Linked DNA regions of Homo sapiens: region 2 is linked to region 1. Evidence: fine-mapped expression QTL. A gene starts in region 1. The other region holds a variant in brackets. All regions are shown on one strand. Distances are between the middles of the regions. Region 1 holds the start of NIPAL3 (NIPA like domain containing 3). Region 2 overlaps NIPAL3 (NIPA like domain containing 3).

Evidence for each region.
Region 2: its variant is fine-mapped to the expression of NIPAL3 in B cells (Fairfax 2012, PIP 0.90).

Annotation. Positions count from the first base shown.
Region 1 is chr1:24,411,651-24,419,650 of GRCh38, forward strand. NIPAL3 (NIPA like domain containing 3) reads left to right here and starts at 4,152. Exons shown (of 12, transcript NM_020448.5): 1 at 4,152-4,254; 2 at 7,641-7,990. The coding sequence starts at 7,898. STPG1 (sperm tail PG-rich repeat containing 1) reads right to left here and starts at 2,132. Exons shown (of 9, transcript NM_001199013.2): 1 at 2,024-2,132. RefSeq lists enhancers at 1,628-1,747, 6,934-8,000.
Region 2 is chr1:24,451,610-24,459,609 of GRCh38, forward strand. NIPAL3 (NIPA like domain containing 3) reads left to right here. Exons shown (of 12, transcript NM_020448.5): 7 at 1,799-1,895; 8 at 4,529-4,664; 9 at 7,279-7,367. Among named protein-coding and RNA genes, the nearest start is that of NIPAL3, 40 kb to the left of the region's middle. RefSeq lists enhancers at 4,204-4,716, 6,000-6,501. The variant T/C (reference allele first, on the strand shown) is at 3,755.

The DNA.
Region 1 (8,000 bases):
CAGGATGGTCTCGAAATCCTAGCCTCAAGTGATCTTCTCACCTCAGCTTCCCAAAGCACTGGGATTACAGTGAGCCACCGTGCCTTACCTGGTTGGGTTTCTGAAGTTACAATATTGCATATAGTTTTCAAAATATAAAGCAAATAAGGGATGGCTGGGTGGGGGCAAATATTTGACTCTCTTGAATATTCACAGAATGCTAGGTTTCATCAGAACACAGTTTAAAAACTCCTGGGGGAAGTTCACTGTTGGACAGTTCTAATTGCTAGAAAGTTCCTTCCTGTATCAAAGCTGATTCTCTCTCTCTTTTTTTCTTTTTCTATCCGTCCTAATTCCCACCCTTGGAACCAACTCAAAGTAAGTCTCATTTCTCTTCCACATTGGTGATTTTCAAAATGCAAGTCATAGTCTGTAGTCTTTTGTGAAGTTTTAGTTTGTCATATGCGTGTGTGCATGCTGGGTCACAATATAAAATGCATTTACCATGAGTCACAGTCAAAAGGTTTGAAAGCCACTGTTCTATATGACTATTCTGCAAGAATTTGAAGGCAGTTGTCGTGCCCCACCACCTAAAGACTAATCTTCTTCTCCACATGGGACCTCCCTGGCTTTTGCCACATATCTCCTTGCTGCATGGGGAGCTCCTTTCCTCACCGGACCCAGGCATCGTCCTGCAGTCCTGTCACAAAATTCACGAGACTCTCTGCTCAAACCTTCTTAGGGATGACTTCCCTGACCACCCTCTCTTAAGAAGCACCAACCCATCTCTCTCTAGCCCCTTACTCTGCTTTATCTTTTTCAAAGCACTTTTCACTACCCAACATTATATTGTATGTTTATTACTTTATTTGTTTATGATCTTCCCCAGTAGAAAGTTCAACTCTGAATCTTCAGTCTATTTCCTCACATACAGTATTTGCTCAATTGGCCAGGCATGGTGGCCCACACCCGTAATCCCAGCACTTTGAGAGGCTGAGGGGGAAGGATGGCTTGAGACAGAAGTTCAAGACTACCCTGGGCAACATAGCAAGGCCCTGTCTCTACAAAAATAATAATAATAGTATTGAGAATTTTTAAAATTAGTATTTTCTTCATAAATATTGGTGGAATGAATGAATGAATGAATACTAGAGGTAGACACCTTTTAGCAATTGTGTGTACAGCTGTGCTCAGAATATATTTCCAGCGGGAGTTAGATTCTACAAGGACAGCTCACATGATCACAACTATAGGCACAGTTTCATTTTATCATCTCTTGTGTTTTTAAAAAACGTTATATATGCTAAGTATTACAGTTTACATTATACATGTTACTGTACAGGGTATATAAACATGTACTAAACTATGTATACTGTTACTTTAGATAGAATTTTTTTGGATGTCCTGAGTAGTTTCGTCTGTAGGCGATTTTTATCTACTCAGTTATAAGCATCTTGGAAGCAGCTTACATTTTTTCAAAGCACTCTCAGGTAAATAACCCATTCGATAGTCTTCATAGGCTGAGAAAGTGTATCAGGGAGCTGGAAGGAAATTTAGCGGCGGGCTAGTGACCACCAGGTTCCAATCTCACCCTTTTATTTTACAGATGGGTAAATCGAGGCCCAGAGCAGGGAAGTCGTTTGCTGGGGGACACCCCCTGAGCTGGGGTGAACCTATGAGTAGAGATCAGGTCTTTGGCGTCCACCCACTGCCAGGCACTGAAGCCTCCCAACTTTTGCGCACTCGCGGAGCCTGAGCCAGAAGGGTCGGACGCCCACGCCCCTGGCAGGAGCTCGGTGGAGCAGGCAAGCCCCAGTTGTCACCACTTTTCGGGTGGAAACACCGAGGACACGCCCCGACGCAGGGGCAACTCCCATGGTGGCTTCTTCCCGCCCTCGGGGCTCCACCTAGCTCAGCCCTGGAATTCCGCAAGCACCCGGAGGCCGGGGGGTCTCCGCGGGCGTCCCATGCGGAGGACATGGTGCGCCGTGTCCTCTTCCCCACGACCTCAGGGACCGGTCCCCCCGCCGGAACTGCTTCCTACCTGGTCCGGTCCCGGCAGCTGAATCTGGCCAGCCCAACCTCCCGGTCGCTATGGCACCCACAGGCCTAACATTCGCGAGTCCACCTTCCGCCGTCCGCGAGGTAACTCCAGCCAATGGCATCCTCTGTTTCTTTAACGTGAAAAGTTGTTGACCAATCATTAGAGGCGTTTCAAAGTCCGCAGAGAAGCCGGCCGAATTTTAGGGCTTAGGTTAATTACATCAGGGCCTGTAGCGGGGTGGGGAACTAATAAGAGGTTTATCTAGGCCATGCTTCAAAAATCTTGTGATAAACCAAAAGCCTCAGAATTTTGCTCACTCAAAAATCCTGCTTCAAGGAATATACCTAAAAGAATTAACATTCATCCAAGCCCTGTTTCTTTTTTTTTTGAGACAGAGTCTCGCTTTGTCGAGCAGGCTGTAGTGCAGTGGCGCAATCTTGGCTCACTGCAACCTCCGCCCTCCAGGTTCAAGCGATGCTCCTGCTTCAGCCTCCTGAGTAGCTGGGATTACCGGCGCTCGCCACCACGCCAGGCTATTCTTTTTGTATTTTTAGTAGAGACAGGGTTTCACCACGTTGGCCAGGCTGGTCTCGAACTCCTGACCTCAGGTGATCCACCCGCCTCGGCCTCCCAAAGTGTTGGGATTACAGGCGTGAGCCACCACGCCCGGCCCCAAGCCCTGTTTCTAACAGAAGAAAAAAAAAAAAATTGACATGGGCGACTATACAAGGGCAGCCACTTAGTATTCCAGGAGCCCCTCTTCACACGCTTCAGGGCAGGGCGGTCTCAGCGACCTTGTCACTCCCCTGCTTAAAGTCCTCCAATGGCTCGCCTTTAAATTTAGGGTGAAATCCAAGCTTTTTTTTTTTTTTTTTTTTTTTTGACAGGGTCTTGCTCTGTCGCCCAGCTGGAGTGCAGTGGCGCGATCTCGACTCGCTGCAACCTCCGCCTCCCGAGTTCAAGCGATCCTCCCGCCTCAGCCTCCTGAGTAGCTGGGACCACGGGCGCTCGCCACCACGCCCGGCTAATTTTTAAATTTTTTTGTAGAGATGGGGTCCCACTATATTGTCCAGGCTGGTCTCAAACTCCTGGGCTTAAGTGATCCTCCTGGCCTCCCAAAGTCCTGAGATTACAGGTGTGAGCCACCGCGCCGGCCCCCAAATATGTTATTTATAAACTGTCCCTGGCCCGTCCCTCAGATCGCAGGCCCAACCACGCCCCCAGAAAAATCTCTCACCAGCCCTGCTGGCCTTCGGGCAGTTTCTACAATGCACCAACTCGTTCCTCTCCCATGTTCCCAAGGAGCTTTCTCTGCCCCACGATCTGAGACTAGAACTGCCTCTTTCTCATTGTTGATGTCTAGGCCCAAATGACATTTCTTCATACGTAAAACGGGCTTCAAGTCTCACTCATGGCTGTGACGATCTGAAAGCAAATGCGTGTATATGACAACGTGTGAGCGATGAGAAGCTTGTCATCTGTAAAACTCCATGCGCATGTTAATTATCATGGCCGTGATAATTATGTACATTATAGAAACATTAACCAAGCGCTGGGCTCGTTTCAGGACCTTCAGTATTGCTGGGAGGCTTGGTATCCGACAGGTGTTCCAGGAGGGCAGGAAAGGAGAGATATGTTTGGTCCCAAGTCTCGCGAGGGCTCTGGGGAGCGCTGGGTCTTCAAGGACGTTTTGGATTTGAATACTTGGTGAGAGCGTCGGGTAGGGGAACAGCAGGAGCAAAGCCCGGAAGGTGGCTATGAGGATAAGAAGGGAGGACACCTGGCAGGCTGCTAAAACCAGGCCCACCTGCCGGGCAGGTGGAGGCGAGCAACCACCTAAGCTCTCTGGGACAGCGGGAGAGGGGGCAGGGGAGTCGCCGCACCATTCTTCCTGTGGCCGCTAGGGGGTCCCCGCTCCAGGTGAGCGCCAAGCTCTAGCCCCAGGTCGCTCCCTTATGCTTCAAGCAAGCTTTGCAGCGCAGCCAATTGCCAGGGGCTGTCCCGCCTACTCCCCGTCCTCGCAGCCACTTGCCTGCGCGAAATGCCTGCCAACTTCTGACTGGCAGGCAGTCTGGCAAATCAAATCGCGACCTTTGAAAGCAAAACACTGCAGCATCTTGGCAGCTCTGAATTGGGAAGGGATGAAGGAGGCTGTGCCTCCGGGTTGCACGAAGAGTCCGAGTCATTTCTCAGAAGGTTTTGATAGGTGGGCCTTAGAGGAGACGCCGCCGGTGAGTAGTGATTAACACCGGGAGGAAGGGGAATTGAATTTAACCTTCGTTTTTTTCTGGAAAAAGCGAAGTCACCTAACGTCCCCTAGTGTACATACCCTTCCTTCTTACTGTCACCAGCCTCGCCAACCTGGGTCCCGTTGCCTTGGAATGTTCTTTCCAGTTTTGCATCGAGGCCAAGAGGAGCGGGGGCATGGGCTACCTTACTAAAGGTGATGCCAGGCTCTACCAAACCAGGAAGTGACATGGAGTTAACTTTGCCAGAATTTCTCCTCTTCGTGCCGAGCGGCTCGGGCTTCCTGGCGGCAGCAGATGGTGGAGTTAGCAGGTGGGATGAGGGGAGGCGTTCTTGGTCTAAGCCCGCTTCTGGAACAGAGGTGCTGTCTCCTCGAGTTGTAAGTTTCCAGCTCAGTGGGACGGGACGGAAGAATGTAACCTTCTCGTGAGCCAAAGCCGAGGAACGGGAAGCTTGGCAGGGAACTGGCGCTCACCTCCAGAAGCCAGATCGTCGGGTGGTGGGAAAGAGCGTGTTTTATTGATTTGTTCAGAAAGAGGCAAATTCGAATACAGACGCTATGAGCCACGGCTGTCTCATTTGTAAAACGTGCTCTGTGGGATTGGTGAAATCCGTCATCGAGATAAACGGGGTGGGAATGGAAGCAGAGCACCTAGTGAATTCTCATTCCTTCCTTGGGTCAGTGACCACGTGCTCTAATTGTGGGGTGGTTGACAACGCAGAGGTGACTGCTTGCCTCTCGGGCATATGTAGGTCCTGAAGAAATGCTTCGAAATCAGGAAAAGAGAGTCACCAGGTGAAAAGTATGTGTCTTATAAGGGAGTACAGCTTGCAAAGGGTTCCTCCAGGCTTTCAGTCCGGACTCCCACCCAGCTGAGGGAGAGCCTTCAATCTTTGCAGGCGATGCTTCAGAGGCCTGCGAGTTCCTGAGGCAGAGAGGGAAGCTGCTTTTTAAAAGAAAAATTAAACCACAGCAATGCCAACCACCACAAACAAAAGCAAAACCAGAAAAGCACTTGGGCAAACTACTCTGAAGGATGTTAGGAGGCCTGGGTTCCCACCACTCCCTTGATTGACATGTCGCTAAGGTCTGTTGGCTTTCTCTGACCTCCTGTGGGTGGGGCTGAGTATATCTGCTTGTTGAAGCTCTGGAGTTGTGGTTGATTAGGCCTTAGAAAGGCATTCTTGACTGCGAAGGGGCCACAGTGCACCCAGTGCTTAACCAGCCTGCATTTAGTCAGTCGGTTGGTATGTATACAAGTCACTGTCAGGCTCTGGGCTAGATCTCATTTAGTCAGTTGGTTGGTATGTATAGAAGTCACTGTCAGGCTCTGGGCTAGATCTCAGCTGGGAGCAACTGAACAGGGTATTCCGCAAACACCTCACTGGAGTTTGCGCTCCTCAACTCCATGACTGCTTCATGGTTGAATGCTTCCCGGGGCCTCTCAGAGGTAGAAAGAACCCTGAGCCACTCTTAAGGCTCTTATGATTATTACAAATGCTAAAACATTTTTACAGAAATGTAACACAATAATGCTTTTCACATGTACGTGAAAGTATAGTGAACAATTATGCTTTCCACAAGATTGCAAACACATATTCATAGGGTTTTACAGGCAGGGAAGTCTAGCTATGGGATGTGAATTACCTGATAAAGTTACCCGGTGAATGCTTACATCTCATGTCTGTATATTGGATATATAACCTCGTCTGCAGGTAGTAGCAATAATTTCATCCTGAGGCCCTCTGACAAAGTGAAACCAAGCCAAATGGTTTCTGTAGCTGTCCCTATGCTAAACCTGCATTTGTTGTATCCCAGGACTGGACATGGTGTTCCCCTTATCACATATGTATGTGCTGTCCACACCATGAACCAGAATTCCTGGGCCTAGGGCCGGATAGCAGAAGGAACTGGAAGCTACAGGATACACAGGAGGCAGCTCTCTGAAGCCTCAGGGAGTGGCAGAAATTGTTTAGCTCACAGTGAGCCCTCAGTAAATATTTGTTGGATGAATGCATGAGAGAGAAAGGAATGGACAAAATAAATAATTAAACAGGAGAGAATAAAATTAATCTTAACAGCAGCTCACATTCATGGACCATTTGCTATGCCTGCATTTTACATGTATGATTTCATCAAATTCTCATGACTGCCATGTGGAGTGGGAACATTATTATCTATATTTCACAGCTGGAGAAACTGGCTGAAAAGTTAAATGACCTGGCAAAGGTAAAACAGGTAGCACATGGCACATCAAAAGCAATTTAAAACATTTTTCTATTAAAATAAACATAGACTATGCAGTAGAATACATTTCTAAAAAATGTATAAAAAGTCCTCAAAGAAAACCCTAACACTTTTAAGCAGGGTTTTGGCCATGCCTCCTAGGACACTAGAAGTATACTTTCTCTTCTCTGTTTGGTAGCAAATTTTGAGAAGTGGCACACACCTGTAATCCTAGCACTTTGGGAGGCTGAGGCAAGTGGACTGCTTGAGCCTAAGAGTTCAAGACCAGCCTGATAACATGGCGAAACCCTGTCTCTACAAAAAAATTAGCCAGGCCTTGTGGCACGCGTCTGAGGTCCCAGCTACTTGGGAGGCTGAGGGAGGATTGCTTGAGCCCAGCTTGAGGCCATGTTTGTGCCACTGCACTCCAGCTTGGATGACAGAGTGAGATTCTGTCTCCAAAAAAAGGAAAAGTTCGGGAAGCACTGAAAATATAAGTCCGATGAAATTAGTAGGGATTCTCATCATTGCTGGGTTTATTTGAGGCCACATTATTACCCCCACTTTACAGAGGAGGCAACTGAATCTCTGAGAGGCAGAGTTACCTGGTCACACAGGTTTTCCACCTCCGAGACCAGTGTCACCTCACCTGTGTCAGGCCAATCCTCGGTAGCAGGCCAGTTCTTCTGTTTTCCATGGATGTAGCTTTTCTTCTGATTCTTTTCTTCCTAAGCTGAAACTTAAATAGTTCCCTTTTCGTGGTAGTGGAATTGTTTTTTTTTTTTTTTTGAGACCTGGAGAAGTTAGTATTCTACTTCTTGTGCTCAAGAGCTATGGAAAAAGGGAGGATTTAAGTTAGGGTGCGATGGGAGGAAGGAAGCAGAGTGGAGGAGGAAAGGGAACATTAAGGGCCAGGGAGAAAGCTTTTGAGATAGATGAGTCAGGTTTGTATTAAGGGGAGGACAAAGGCATGATAGGACTTGTTTTTAACTGCTAGAATTGAATTTTGAAGAATTTTTTTAATGGACTCACTTGTCATGGCCGGTTACGTTTTATCTGAATGGTATTCTCTTCTCAGATAACAAAGCTGGGCTCAGTGTTTCCTTGTCCATGCATTTTTAATGTTCCTCTCCACCACCCTAGAGCACCGCAAGAACTGGAAAACACACCCCTCTCTGTCTGCCTGGGAGAGCCACGGAAATTGGCACTTCTCTGAGTGAAGCTGAGGAGAAGGCTGTAAATCTGCCAAAACAGCCTTGAAGTATTCTTTTGTCATGAGGAAGTGACGGCTGCTGGAGGGAGGTGAACACCACAAGGAGAGATGGCATCTGGCCTGGGCCCCGCCTAGCAGCAGCTCCACCTCCTAGGCCAGGCCCTGTGGGATGCGCCACTAGACCACCATGGACGGATCCCACAGCGCAGCCCTGAAGCTGCAGCAGCTGCCTCCCACAAGTAGCTCCAGCGCCGTAAGCGAGGCCTCCTTCTCCTACAAGGCAAGGGCTT
Region 2 (8,000 bases), 40 kb after region 1:
GGAGGATAGCTTTGAGCCCTGGAGGTCAAAGCTGCAGTAAGCCATGATCACAGTACTGCACTCCAGCCTGAGTGACACAGTGAGACCCTGTCTCAAAAAAAGAAAAAGAAAAAAAAAATCATGGAGAATGGCTGAAGAATTGGGACCCCTCAAATGCAGGCACAGTGGTTGGGAATGTTGATGATTGACAGCACATCCACTTGATGAAGTATTCTGCAGCAATTAAAGATAATTATGACAACTTCACAAAACATGAAGATTGTTTATGGTAACTAAAAACAGCCCAGTACAAAATCGTGCATTGACTATAATGACAACTCGTTAAAATATGGATTCACTGGAACAAAGACAAAGAAGAAACGGGGAAATGAAAGCAGCTGTGTTTTATGGTCTCTAATTAGAAGGAATGTTTTAAATGTTTCAAAATGCCCATTAATGTTTCTGGGTTTTTTTTATACTAAATCAGCTTTGATAAGGGGTTTGGGATAGGCAAATGAGACTAAGCTGTTGTCAAAGTTTTCTGCTTTAGTTGCACTGGGCGCTAGGGCTGGCTTAACTTCTTGGGAAAGTGTTAGCAAATATCTGGGCTTTTAAGGGGTAGAAAGGAACAGTTGTTGATGCAAGGAGGGGGAGCTTCTCAAACTCGGACTTGCCATCGTCTAGTGGTAAGTTTCTACTGATAGAGCACCAGACAGTGTGGCCTAGCAGGAAAGTGCATGGGCCTGGGAGCCAGACTGTCCAGGTTTAAATTCCTCTGTGCCACGCCATCGTGGTAGTACCTGCTTCGTAGAGTTATTGTGCTGATTTAGTGAGTTTAACGTAGATAAAATGCTTAGAACACTGCCTGGCGTACAAGGAGACGTCATTTAGTGTAAGCTATGATTATGGGCCCATAAAAAGAATTCTTAACCCTACTCCACAGAGGGTTAACTAAGGTTTAGAGAAGTTAAGTGACTTACCCAAGGCCACACGACTAGTTTAGAGGCAGACCTAAGTTCCAGCCCAGGTCTCCCTGACTCCAAAGGCCTTCCTCATTCTACTCTGTGAAGCTTCACACTGGAAGCTTGGCTGGGAGCACAGGGAGTATATACTCATATTCTTTATTTATGTATTTATTTATTTTTTTGAGATGGAGCCTCGCTCTGTCTCCCAGGATGGAGTGCAGTGGCGTGATCTCAGCAATTCTCCTGCCTCAGCCTCCTGAGTAGCTGGGATTATAGGCAGATGCCACCACGCCCAGCTAATTTTTTTTTTTTTTTTTTTTGTATTTTTAGTAGAGACCGGGTTTCACCATGTTGGCCAGGCTGGTCTCGAACTCCTGACTTCAGGTGATCCACCCGCCTTGGCCTCCCAAAGTGCTAGGGTTACAGGTGTGAGCCACCGTGCCTGGCCTCACATTCTTGACCAAATAGGTTGGTGAACAAGTGTCTCCCTCTTGGACCAACCCATTGTTTTAATGGGGATGCCCATGGAGCAGTGGAGTGGGAAGAAACCATCTCAGCCTGATGCATCTTGGCCCTCCAAGAAAGAGTGGATATGAGAGCAGCACGTCACCCTCAAAGCTTCAGCCTCAGGACAACAGGGAATTCCTTCTCAGTACTAGCCAGGGATTAGAGAGATTCACTCTGTGTTTCCCTTTTCCCCTGAACGTCTAACAGTAGTTTGGGAAATGCTGAATCATAGCTCAGTCATTCCCTTTCAACCCTGTGACTCTGGTGATGGCCCAGCCCACCAGGGTCTCCCGGTCTCGCCTACTTCTGTGGTCCCCACTGACCCCCCTGCTTGCTGCCTTCCACAGCTGGTGGAGATCATTCTGTTCTGCTTGCTGCTCTACTTCTACAAGGAGAAGAACGCCAACAACATTGTCGTGATTCTTCTCTTGGTGGCGTTACTTGGTAAGTTGGCATCTGGATGATTGAGTTTTGCCACCACCAAGAAGCACCAAATGGAAATGTGGGTTTTGTTTGCAGAGCTGTAGCCGCTGGGCACAGAAGTTGCTTGAGACTGGCTGAGGTTGTTCTGTCTCCATCAGTGGCTCTGGGGAGCTGGGTCCCTGCTGACCGGAGGCAAACTCCTGTGCTCCAGGAGCCTCCAATCTAAAGGGAGAAAATAGCACTAAACAACTAGCCAAATTCATAGGTCATGTAAGTTTGGGCAATAACAATTCCAATGAGGAAGAATAAAGTAGAGTGAGGATGAGGTGAGTTAGTTTGTTTCAGAGACGGTAGTAGTAGAGCATGCCCCAGCGATTGAGCCCTGAAAAGATCCATGCAAAACCTATCAGAGCTTAGGGATTCATTCTGATTCAAAGGTAAAACTAGATTTTGTCATCTATTTTTTCTTTTCCTTTTAGAGGGATGGGTGCTGTGGAAGAGATAGCTCCTGAATCAGCTTGAGGCTAGAACTGCATATTAATTTTTCCTTTTTTTTTTTTTTTGAGACAGTCTTGCTCTGTCACCCAGGCTGGAGTGCAGTGGTACAATCTTAGCTCTCTGCAGCCTTGACCTCCTGGCCTCAAGTGATCCCCCTGCCTCGGCCTCCCAAAGTGCCAGGATTACAGGCATGAGGCCCTGTACCTGGCTAGAACTGCATATAATTTTATAGCTAAATAGAGCTGTGGGGAATCCATCCTTCCTGAGGAGAAGCAGACAGAGGCGGAGGAGCAGGCTGGTGTCAGGGCTGGTGAAGCCTGCTACCGCGCTGCTCTTGAGTGGCCTCAGGCTAATGACCCTCCCTCCTTAAGCCACGCTGTCCACTTCTCTAAAGGGGGGGCCTATGAGAACATCCAAGTCACGGAAGGGAGTGGGGGTTAAATGAGATGTGCACAGGTGGCTAATATGTGCATTTTTCTTCCAACCTTCCTACTGTGTGCCCTACCACCGCCACAAGCCATCAACCAAATAGATACCTGTCACCGAAGACAGGGTTTCCTTAATTTTTTAACAGCTCTGTTGAGATATAATTTACATACCATAAAGTTCACCTGTTTAAAGTATACAATTCAGTGGTTTTTAGTATTTCATAGAGTTGTGAAACCATCATCCTAATCTAATTTTAGAACATTTTGTCACCCCCAAAAGAAACCCTGTGCCCATTAGCAGTCACTCCCTGTTCCCCTTTTCCCAGCCTCAGGCAACCACTAAGCTATCTTCTGTCCCTGTAGATTTGCCTTTTTGAACACCTTCATAAATAAAGTCGTATGCTTTGTGGCCTGATATGACTGGCTTCTTTCACTGAGCATGATGATTCTGAGGTTCACCCACATCATAGCATGAATCAGTCCTTCATTCCTCGGTGACTTTGTTTTCAAAGTGGATGGGAAGGATCACGGCCCTGAAACATCCTCTCCTCTTACGTAGGAAGGCCAGAAGGTTCTGAGGCCATTGGCCAATCCCCTTCTGACTAAGAAGGACTACCTGATGACAAGTGCCTAAGTGGTTGCTGACGTTTGGAAACAGTAGCCTAATGGGTGAGGAGCCCAAGAGACACTGCGTGTTGGGGGTGTTGGCAGGAGAAAGCGAAATAAACCAAAGCTGAAGAATAGGAAAGCAAAGCACAGCAGCAGGGACCGGGGGCTTCACCTGGACCACGCTTGGGGGCTGTCTCTAACTCCTGTTTGGCAGGGCAGTCTGAAAGTCTGCAGTTAGAAGACATTTCTGAACAGTAGGGTGGAGCAAGGGTCTCCACAGGGAGGTGAGCAGGATGCTTCGCTGGGTACACAGAGAGAATATTAGAACTTCAATCATTTTTTCTC[T/C]GCCTTTTAAATTATATTCCTGTACAAATTTTATAACATGCCTACCATTTAAGTTCAGGGTCACATGACTTTAATTTGAAAACAGATACACACATATTGGAAATGTTTGCACATATGCACAGGGGTGTGCATTCCAAAACACTGGAGAAATGTTTTTAAAAATACAAGTGACCAGCTGGGCGCGGAGGCTCACGCCTGTAATCCCAGCTATTAGGGAGGCAGAGATGGGAGGGTAGCTTGAGCCCAAGAATTCAAGACCTGCCTGGGCAATATAGCGAGACCCTGTTGTCCACAAAAAGGAAAAAAAAAAATACAACAACAACAAAAAATACAAGTGACTGAGCACTAAAAAACCCAACAATTCCTAAGCTGTTTACCCAACACATGTTTTTCCTGTGGTTGCCATGAGACTGGTAAGTTCGTTGATCCACTCGGATCCTTTTGGCCACAGTGCTGGGCACTCCGGGCCTCAGAGAACTGAACTTACTGCCCATGCTTGGCAGTTTAGAAGTGATGTCTAGGATTACCTTCAGGGGGTTGGCTTTCCTCCCTCCTTTAGGATGTAGTCAGCACAGAGCATGGGAGTCCATGGGAGAGGTGCACACGAGACCCAGTGCAAACGGCGTCTGTCACTGTGCAAACTGCCGGCTTGACTCTGTTCCTGTTCCCTCCCCTCTGTCTCCCCAAGTCCTTTGGGGTTATAGACTGGCTTTCCGGACCTAACTCTCTGCATTTCCCTGAGGCTCCCCATTCGCCCTTGTCTCCCATCTGCAGGCTCCATGACAGTGGTGACAGTCAAGGCCGTGGCTGGGATGCTTGTCTTGTCCATTCAAGGGAACCTGCAGCTTGACTACCCCATCTTCTACGTGATGTTCGTGTGCATGGTGGCAACCGCCGTCTATCAGGCTGCGTGAGTTACAAATCCTTTTCCTGCTGGGCCCTGCCATTCGGGCTGCTTCTCTTTTGGGGGCCTGATGACGTATGCTGTGAAGCCACAAGGAGGCCAGAACATGCCCCAGGGCCTGGCATCCAGCATGGAGAGAGGAGCTGCTAATTTGCTGAGTTGTCACCTGGAGGGACACCTGCCACTCAAAAGACGAAGCCAGGCCAGGCTCAGTGACCCACGCCTGTAATCCCAGCTCTTTGGGAGGCTGAGGTGGGTGGGTCACTTGAGGCCAGGGGTTTGAGACTAGCCTGGCCAACATGGTGAAACCCCGTCTTTACTAAAAATACAAAAAAATAAAATAAAATTAGCTGGGCATGGTGGCACATGCCTGTAGTCCCAGCTACTCAGGAAGCTGAGACACAGAATTAAAAAAGAAAAAAGAAAGAAATACGAAGCCAGCAGTGGATGGATTTTTCCCCACTCCCTCAGAATGTGATAATTTTTGTTTGTTTGCTTGTTTGTTTGTTTTTTGAGATAGAGTCTCACTCTGTTGCCTAGGCTGGAGTGCAGTAGAGCCATCTCGGCTCACTGTAACCTCTGCCTCTGGGGTTCAAGCGATTCTCCTGCCTCAGCCTCCCAAGTAGCTGGGACTACAGGTGTATGCCACCACACCCGGCTAATTTTTGTATTTTTAGTAGAGACGAGATTTCACTTTGTGGGCCAGGCTGGTCTCAAACTCCTAACCTCAAGTGATCCACCCACCTTGGCCTCCAAAGTACTGGGATTACAGGCATGAGCCACAACACCTGGCCAGAATGTGAGAAATTTGTGGTTGGAGGCAGCCTTACTTCCCATCTTCTCCGGGGCAGATGATCGTCTCAGGGGCCTCGGAAGCATGGCCATCCCTAGGAGGCACCTGCTTGTCTGCTGGGTTGGAAAGAAAAGTTGTCATTTCTTGACTTCAGTATATCACCTCCAAATCTTCCTGAGTGGAAGGCAAAGTGCCCCCTCCTCTTTCTAAGCATGAAGTTAAATAAAAGGCAGCAGCCTGAGGGCAGGGCCTGTGTCTTGTTTGCGTTTGAGTCCTGGAGCCCAACAGAGGGCCTGGGAGGAGAGGCTCTAGGAATCTTGTAGGTGACAAAACCTGTGTAGGTACACAGGACTCAGCAGCGCACAAGGCTGATTCAACCTGGGAAGCTCAGGCTCAGACTGAAGGTCCACCAGCTACATGGCCTCCAGGCACCATAGGAGCAGCTGCTGCTGGCCCGGTGTGAGCCCAGCTCTTTTCTCAGTGCTTTATGGAACCAGCTCATTTGGTCCTTACAACACTCCTTTGATGTACAGGATATTATCCCCATTTTGCATACGAGGAACTGATGCGGAGAGAGTAAGAGGCTAGAAAGTGGCGGAGCTGAGATCTGAACCCAGGTGTCTGGCTCCCCAGCCCATGCCCTCACTGCTCTGCTCTTCTGTCGCCTACTCAGCTTCTCCAAGACAGATTCTTCACCTGCTAATGAGAACAACAGTCCCTACCTAAGAGAATCACATGAAGCTCTTATGAGAATGTCTCTAGGGAAATGCCCGGTAAACATGAGCTGCTTCTATGATTATTGGCCTTGCTATTGTTATTTTGGTTATTATTTTTGGTCCCACTACAACAATTCCAGTCATCACCTGGAAGCCCCTGCCAGTCAAAGGCCCTGTGCTGAGCACTCCAGGTGTCACAAACATGGCTCAGATGCCACCGCCCACCTCCTAAGGAGCTACTCATTCCCTAGCCAGTGCAGCCCACTGAGGGTGCTCAGCACACAGAGATGATGAGGGTAGTCACTCACTGCCCTCAGGCATTCACGGCCCTGGCTGGGGGACAGCCAGTGAAGAAACTAGTACAGCCAAGCTGCATGCAGTGGCTCACACCTGTAATCCCAGCTACTCAGGAGGCTGAGGCAGGAGCATTTGAGCCCCGTAGTTAGAGGCTGTGGTGAGCTGTCATTTTGCCACTGCACTCCAGCCTAGGCCACAAAGCGAAGTAAAAAAATAAAAGCAATTGAGTGGTGAGCATGGTGTAAGCAACTATGCAGAGAAAGGGCAAAGAATATCTTCCAAAACAAGGGTATTGTTTATCATAGATGGAGTGATTAGGAAGGACTCTAATTTTCTCTTTTTCCTGTATTTATTTCAGTGATCACATTATTTTCAAATTAAAAAGAAATTTTGTTTAAAAGAATAATTATGACACTAGGCAGAACGTGATTAGTGCTGTAAGAGTTTCTGGGGGCAGGGGTATAAGAGATGCAGGAATGGCTCTTTTTAGTGGGGTGGGGATACGGGGGGTGAGGAGAAGGGCATTTCAGGTGACAGGAGCCGTGCAGCCAAAGGTGTGAGACCATGATGGCATGGTTCAATTGGGAAATGGGGATGGGCCTTAGCTGTGTGTCTAGGGGAAGAGTGGGAATCAAGTATGGGCCCCAGACTAGGGATACACAATGTCCTGTAACATGAGGGTGGCATTTTTAGAAACCCAAGGAACATTCCTAAATGTATCATCTTCATATTTCAAACCAAACTCTACTGTTGTCAGCTCTTAGCCTTTCCAACGTCTCCACAGCCCACTGACTGGAGTGCTTTTGTGTTGAAGGTTTTTGAGTCAAGCCTCACAGATGTACGACTCCTCTTTGATTGCCAGTGTGGGCTACATTCTGTCCACAACCATTGCTATCACAGCAGGTAAGGGTGACCCATTGCTAGATTTCTGTCTTCTACTTTAGCAGCAGGGTATTATCCCAGGGCAGAGGGAGGCTGATTCTGCTGACTTGTTCTCCCCGTAGAGTGATTTATGGGTTCATGGAGAATGTGCAGGATTTCCAGACAGAGAGACCCGGGTTTGTATCCCAGCACAGACGCACATCAGCTCTGCAAACATCACTTAACCTCTCTGAGCCTCAGCTCCACATTCATAAAATGGGAGTGATAACACTTAGCTCCTAGAATTGTAATGGGTATGATCCAAATGTGCCCTATGCCATACTGTGTGTACTTTAACAAGTTTTGCTATCTTCTAGCTCCACAACCCCCACTGGCTAAGTGACCACAAATCTCTTCTGTATAATTTTAGAGATTATGAATATGCATAGCACTGCAACATCATCAATGCTCAATAAGTGATCATTAGCATTACAGCCCCCTTTTCCTCTATTTCACCTCTAATTTTTTTTTGCATTTTCTTTCTGTAGTGGCCTCAGAGGCTGCAATCATATAAAGCTGTTTGTTAATTTGTTTAAATGGCATAATAGGTGACTAAAATCTTCAGAGTAAAAAATCCAATAAGAACTAAGTGCTTTCCTTTGGTGAAAGCCTGGC